Homo sapiens: one gene and its partner. The protein of the gene in region 2 purifies or fractionates together with the protein of the main gene of each other region. This does not show direct contact. Each region holds a gene or a part of one and is shown on either strand. Other genes may lie near its edges.

Evidence for each region. Proteins that work in one complex are often made in the same cells at the same time.
Region 1: the proteins of DNAJC8 (region 2) and PIN4 fractionate together in Homo sapiens (co-fractionation; one large-scale study listed by BioGRID). This does not show direct contact.

Annotation. Positions count from the first base shown.
Region 1 is NC_000023.11:72,184,673-72,188,326, reverse strand, and holds part of PIN4 (peptidyl-prolyl cis-trans isomerase NIMA-interacting 4), read right to left. Parts: intron 1,867-3,654; coding exon 1,793-1,866; intron 1-1,792.
Region 2 is NC_000001.11:28,226,425-28,230,078, forward strand, and holds part of DNAJC8 (dnaJ homolog subfamily C member 8), read right to left. Parts: intron 2,600-3,654; coding exon 2,498-2,599; intron 1-2,497. UniProt on the Homo sapiens protein: Suppresses polyglutamine (polyQ) aggregation of ATXN3 in neuronal cells.

The DNA of each region.
Region 1 (3,654 bases), on a different chromosome or scaffold from region 2:
TCTCTTAGGTTAGATGCTTGTGAAAACATATTAGGTGAAAACTGCATATAGCCAAAATTACCCTAGAATATCCCTTTATGAAGATGTCATATGGGAGACCAGCATGTCAGCTCTCATTTAAGCCCAGACATAGCCAGGAACGCTGTACTCCGTTTGTAACATGAAGTAACTGGGTTGTATTTAGGGGCTATGTTTTATGAAAACTTATCTTTGGATACCAGAACCCCACTTCACATGATTGGATGCTCACACAAGAATTCAGGGCAACTATAGAAAAGCAGGTGCATGTCTCTCATCTCTCTCTCTCTCTGTGGGGCATAGGTTCATTGAATAGAAGAGTGGGCAGAACAGTCCACACCATTTACATGATCTCTCTTTTTTAGGCTACACATGTATGGCTGAATTTATATGATGCAGTTCCACTGCTATGCTTATCATACAGCAATGAAATACATATCTTTACCTAACTGCTCCCAAGTAGCCTGTGATAACAAGGACCATCTCTTACTTTTTATTTATTTTTTTGAGACAGGGTCTCGCTCTGTTGCATAGGATGAGTGTAGTGGCACAATCATGGCTCACTGTAGCCTCAAATTCTCGGGCTCAAGCGATCCTCCCACCTCAGCCTCCTGAGTAGCTAGGGCCACAGTTGTGCACCACCACGTCTGGCTGATTTTTTATTTTTACTTTTTTAGTGACAGGGTCTTGCTATATTGCCCAGGCTGGTCTCAAACTCCTGGGCTCAAGTGATCCTCGTGCCTTGGCCTCCCAAAGTGCTGGGATTACAGGAATGAACCATTGTGCCTGGCCCATCTCTTACTTTTTTATTAAATAAATACATGATAAAAAATCCCCAGAGCCTAATACATTGCTTGGCACAGGGCAGATGTCACTAAGTCCTTACTGAATGAATGAATCAAAGTACAGCCTCCCATATCCTGACTAAAACATGGAAATTGCCTTGTTACATAGCACTTACTAGTTTGCAGATTAAATTTTCTCCCAGCAGATACTCCTCTGGGGCTAGGTTAAGTATTTCAAGTAATTATTTGCTGATTTTCTCCTGCCCCCATTTTCATGGTCAAGACCCTGGTTTGTGGCTCACCAGTGGGGAAGCTTTCTAAAGAGACCTGCACCCTTGCCTGTTTATTCAGCAGAGGACTTTTAACACTTATCTAATCTCTTGGTTTTATAAAATATTATTTTGTCCTAAGAAATAACTCAATTACTGGGAAGATCTAACTTAATGCATTTTAAGGAACAATACTAAAAAACTATAAAGAAATTCTGGGTATCTGAGAAAGTACATGACAAAATATTTAAAGGGAATTACTTTTCATAAGCAAGACTGGTCTATATTTTCCATTTTTTTAAAATTTATTTTTATTTATTTATTTTTTTGAGATGGAATCTTACTCTGTTGCCCAGGCTGGAGTGCAGTGGTGCAATCTCAGCTCATTGCAACCTCAGCCTCCTGGTTCAAGCGATTCTTGATTCTCGTGCCTCAGCCTCCCAAGTAGCTAGGATTACAAGTGTACACCACCACACCAGGCAAATTTTTGTATTTTTAGTAGAGACAGGGTTTCACCATTTTGGCCAGGCTGATCTGCCTGCCTTGGCCTCCCAAAGTGCTGGGATTACAGGTGCGCCCAGCTACAATTTTGTGTTATTTTGATTTTATACCAGTGTTAGGCTAGCCTGTTAGAATGAGTTAAGCATTCTGTCTTTTATGTGTACTAACACATAAACAGAATTTATATTTAACATGGAAAAAAAGGAACCAGTAACTCACCTTTACTGCATTGCCACCACCTTTGGGACCTTGAGCCTTCTTGTCAGCACTGTCACTCCCAGAGGCTGCTCCCCCTTTAGAGAAGAGATGACAGGTACTCATTTAAACTGCACCTCCATGTTTACAGAAAGGTCCAACACACAACCGGAGTGGATATTTCCATCATAACGCCACACTTCAAAAGGGAACTCGGCCAGACACTTTACAACAAGGGTATCCAACCTTTCAGCTTCCCTGGGCCACAATGGAAGAATTATCTTGGGCCACACAAAATACGCTAACACTAATGATAGTTGACAAGCTAAAAAAAAAAAAAATCACAAATAAAAATCTCATAATGTTTTAAGAAAGTTTGCAAATTTGTGTTGGGCTGCATTCAAAGCCATCCTGGGCCGTATGCAGCCCGTGGGCCGTGGGTTGGACAAGCTTGCTTTACAACATCAAGCTAAATTAATCTGACCCATCTTTCTTCAAACAGGAAATCTGTGCCCTATATAAACCCTTCACAGAAAATGGATACACAAATGAGTGTGCTAATAGGTGAATGAAAGCTCCGGAAGCCTGGCCCAGATTCTTTGCATCCAATTTAACACCCTGCCTTCTGAGGGCAGACTCCTAAGTTCTTGTAAGAGTTCTATCATGTACCACAACTATGTGTTCAAGCATCACAATTCCAGTAAGTAAAATCTCTAAGAATACATTTTTTAAAAAGATCAAATTTCCCACTACCCATTTTTGGCTAAAGAATACATTCATGTCCAAATTTCTAGAGTCTACTACATTGCCTATTGATGTCTTCCTAGAACCATTAGCAGCATCTTACATTTTACTAGTATGTCATTTTACTACTATGGTAACTTCTGTGTCAATGGCAGCCTACATACTGCTAGAGGCTGATGTTCCTAAGAATTACAGTTGAATTAAGGGCTCAGTTCAATAAACATTTCCTATACAACTACTGAGTTCCAGGCACTGGGAGTACAAAGATGAACAAGCCATGTACCTTCCTTCAGAAAACTCATATTCTAGTGAGGAAGACGGATCATTTCAGGAGAATGCAGGAGATGCAGAGATGGTTATGGACAGGGGGCTGTGGAAGCACAGAGGGACACTGGAGCCAGCCAGGGAAGGTTTCCTGGATGAGTAGGAGCTGGTTAGCCAAAGAAAGGATGAGGAGACACTCCAGAATGGGGGAAACGACATGGTATGTGTAAGAAATTGTATGGATGAAGCCAAATCTGAGGTGGGAGTGCACTCAGATGAGCCTGCCTGAGGGAGGTAGCTGAGGGTCAGGGCATTGAGGCCTTTTGGCCCCATTAAGGAGCTTGGGACTTATCCTAGACGTAATAGGGAGCCATTGAAAAGTTGTTTTTTTTTTTTTTTTTTTGAGACGGAGTCTCGCTCTGTCTGTCGCCCAGGCTGGAGTGCAGTGGCGCGATTTCGGCTCACTGCAAGCTCCGCCTCCCGGGTTCATGCCATTCTCCTGCCTCAGCCTCCCGAGTAGCTGGGACTACAGGCGCCTGCCACCACGCCCCGCTAATTTTTTTTGTATTTTTAGTAGAGACAGGGTTTCACCCTGTTAGCCAGGATGGTCTCGATCTCCTGACCTCGTGATCTGCGAGCCTCGGCCTCCCAAAGTGCTGGGATTACAGGCGTGAGCCACCGCGCCTGGCCGCCATTGAAAAGTTTTAAGCAAGAGTCTCCATCTTGCTTGTCTTAGTATCTCCAAGCCTAGCACAATGCCTGGCACACAAAAGGTGTTTTAATAAATGTTTGATTAAACTGAAAACCCCAAATACTGACTACCAAAACCCTAAAAAAATGTTACTGCCAAAGGAGTGTTATTAAATCAAACTCCTAAC
Region 2 (3,654 bases):
CCCGGGAGGCAGAGGTTGCGGTGAGCCGAGATTGCGCCACTGCACTCCAGCCTGGGCGACAGAGACTCCATCTCAAAAAAAAAAATTTTAGAAAGAAATAAACTAGCTAAACTATTCCACAATAAAGAAATGATTAAATAAATTATATGGAATTTTTTTTACCCCCCAGTCTATTATTTTATAACCAGTTCATAAAAAGTTTCTTGGGGGGTGACATATTACTTACACATCTATTGTGTAGTAAACATGTATGTATATGTGTGTGTACCCAACTACTTTGTTGGAGTGATTGCTGTGGTTTGGAACTGCTGGGGCCAAATTTATGCACAAATCTACATTTTTGAGTAAACTCCTCATGACTAGAGTAAGTTTCCTCAGTATTTGAGAATTCTTCATTTTCTAAAGCTGTACCAACATCAGATATCAATATTTGTAAGCACAAATAATGTAATTTATAATAAAATTGCTTTCTCAACTATTAGTATTAACTATATATCATCTTCATATAGCCTTATAACTCATTTGTACTATTCCATTTTCCTCTGTTCCTTTTATTTTCACTTTCCGTGTAATGTTAGTCTGTACTGAGTTCTGAAGAGTTCATTTATGATTAAAGATGTTAACAGATTTAACATCTTGTCAAGCATTGCAAAAAAAAAAAAAGAATTTCTCTCTCTCTCTTTTTTTTTTTTTTTTTTTTTTGGACAGGCGCGGTGGCTCACACCTATAATCCTAGCACTTTGGGAGGCCGCGACAGGTGGATCGCCTGAGCTCAGGAGTTCGAGACCAACCTGAACAATATGGCAAAACCCCGTCTCTACTAAAAATACAAAAATTAGCCAAGCATGGAGGCAGGCACCTGTAATCTCAGCTACTCGGGAGGCTGAGGCAAGAGAAACACTTGAATCTGGGAGGCGGAGGTGCAGTGAGCCAAGATTGCACCATTACACTCCAGCTTAGGTGACAGAGTGAGACTTCATCTCAAAAAAAAAAAAAAAAAAGCATTTAAAACAGCACTGAGGCTGGACATGGTGGCGAATGGCTGTAATCCTAGCACTATGGGAGCCCAAGGTGGGCAAATCGTTTGAACCCAGGAGTTCAAGGGTGCAGTAAGCCATGATTGCACCACTGCACTCTAGCCTGGGTGACAGTGAGACCCTGTCTCAAAAAAATAAAATAAAATAAAATCGTATTGAGCTGAGCCAGGTGTGGTGTCATATGCCTGTAATCCCATCTACTCCAGAGGCTGAGCAGGTCAAGGAGATCACTTAAGCCCACGAGTTCTAAGCCAGCCTGGGCAACATAATGAGGCCCCATCTCTTTAAAAAAGAAAAAGAAGAAGAAGAAGAAGAAGGATTAAGTGTATGATGCTCCCTGTTTTTAAGCAAAACAGTTTGAGTGTAAACAGGAGTGGCTATTTCTCTTAGGTGGGATTATATATGATTATTCTTGCTTTCTGTACATTTGCAACAAATATGATTTACTTTTATAACCAGGAAAAGTTTAAAGCTATAAAATTAAGAAAATCAAAAAGTATATTCATTTATCTAAAATCTTGTGATCTTTGTTTTGTTGTTGTTGGGTTTTTGGCATTTATTATAGTGAAACAGAAGTTTTAACAAGTAGTTTAAATCAAGAATCCTAGGCTGGGCGCAGTGGCTCACGCCTGTAATCCCAGCACTTTGGGAGGCTGAGGCGGGTGGATCACAAGGTCAGGAGTTCGAGACCAGCCTGGCCAACATGGTGAAACCCCATCTCTACTAAGAATACAAATATTAGCCAGGCACAGTGGTGGGCACCTGTAATCCCACCTACTCGGGAGGCTGAGGCAGGAGAATTGCTTGAACCTGGGAGAAGGAGGTTGCAGTGGGTCAAGATCGCGCCACTGCACTCCAGCCTGGGGGACAGAGCAAGACTCCGTCTCAAAAAAAAAAAAAAAAAAAAAGAATCCTAAACTTATTAGAGCTAGCCACCCCTTCACATCTGAAATTAAATCCTTATATATTTGGGTTGCTAAAAGATGATGAAAGATATGTGACCATCTCACTTTCCTTAACATGCTGTCTCTCCAGTTCTGCTCGGTACAATCACCCAAGTTTAAAGACAATCTATATACAGGTTACATATCCCTAATCCAAAAATGCAAAATCCAAAATGCTCCAAAATCTGAAACTTTCTGAGAGTCAACTGATGCTCAAAGAAAATGCTCATTAACATTCTGAATTTTCTAATTTGGGATGCTTCAACCAGTAAGTAAGCAGAATGTATGTATATATTCCAAAATCCCAAAAAAATCCAAAATCCAAAAAACTTCTGGTCCCAAGCATTTTGGATAAGGAATACTCAATTTTGTACTATACAGATTCCATCACTTTACTCCACCATTTTTCTCAATCCTAACTATGATATAAATTAGGTATGTATTCTGATGTAGGTATGCCTGCAGCTATGCAAATCTCCCCCATTACAGAGGCCCTAGCAACATCAATCGGCTCACCTCAAATGGGTTCAAATTGAAGTAAGAGGAACCAGGACGGGTCAGTCTTTCAATCTGATTTTTCGAAGTTAGAACCGAGTCTCTCTTCTCTATTTGTTTCACCTAAAATTATGAGGATTAAAAACTTCATTAATAGAATTCAATAACAAACTGAATTATCTTAACAAAATGTTCACTGATATGTTCAACAAACATTTATTTGTGTGTTTACCATGTGCAAGACATTTTGCTAAATGCTTTGAGAAATTAAAACTACCATTTGTTGAATTTTAATATAAAAACCTTACATGTATTTATTAATCTCAACAACCCTATGTGGTAGATACTGCTGTTATACCCAATTCACAGATAAGAATACTGAGGCTTAGAGAAGGTAACTGACTTGTTCCCAATTACCCAACTTGTAAGCCAGAATTTTAACCCCAACAGTTTGACCCCACAGCAGGCATCAAGAGGATTCAAAGATAAATAAGTCACAGCCTTTAAAGAACTTCCACTTTAATGATGGAAGATGTGCTTGTGTGTGATTATACTTCATTTATAGCTTTTAATTTTAAGAAAAAAAAAATAGGCTGGGCACAGTGGCTCACGCCTGTAATCCCAACACTTTGGGAGGCTGGGGGGTGGGCAGATCATGAGGTCAGGAGATGGAGTCCATCCTGGCCAACATGGTGAAACCCCGTCTCTACTAAAAATACAAAAAATTAGCTGGGCATGGTGGCATGGCGTGTAGTCCCAGCTACTTGGGAGGCTGAGGCAGGAGAATCGCTTGAACCCCAGGGACAGAGGTTGCAGTGAGCCAAGATCGCGCCACTGGACTCCAGCCTGGGAGACACAGCGAGACTCCGTCTCAAAAAAGAAAAAAAAAAAGTAAGAGATTTCTCTGTGAGGAAAAAAAATAAAGAAAAAAATTTAAAGAGCAAAAAAAGGAAAAATACAATCACAGTAAGACATAAACTATGAGCAGCATTTAAAACTGTTGATGGGAAGGAACAAACAACTCCACCACCTAATTCTAATAGTGTTAGAAAAAATCCCTGACTTGGCCAGGCGGAGTAGCTGTCACCTGTAATCCCAACATTTTGGGAGGCTGAGGTGGGTGGATTGCTTGAGCTCAGGAGTTTGAGACAAGCCTGGGCAACATGGCGAAACCCCAT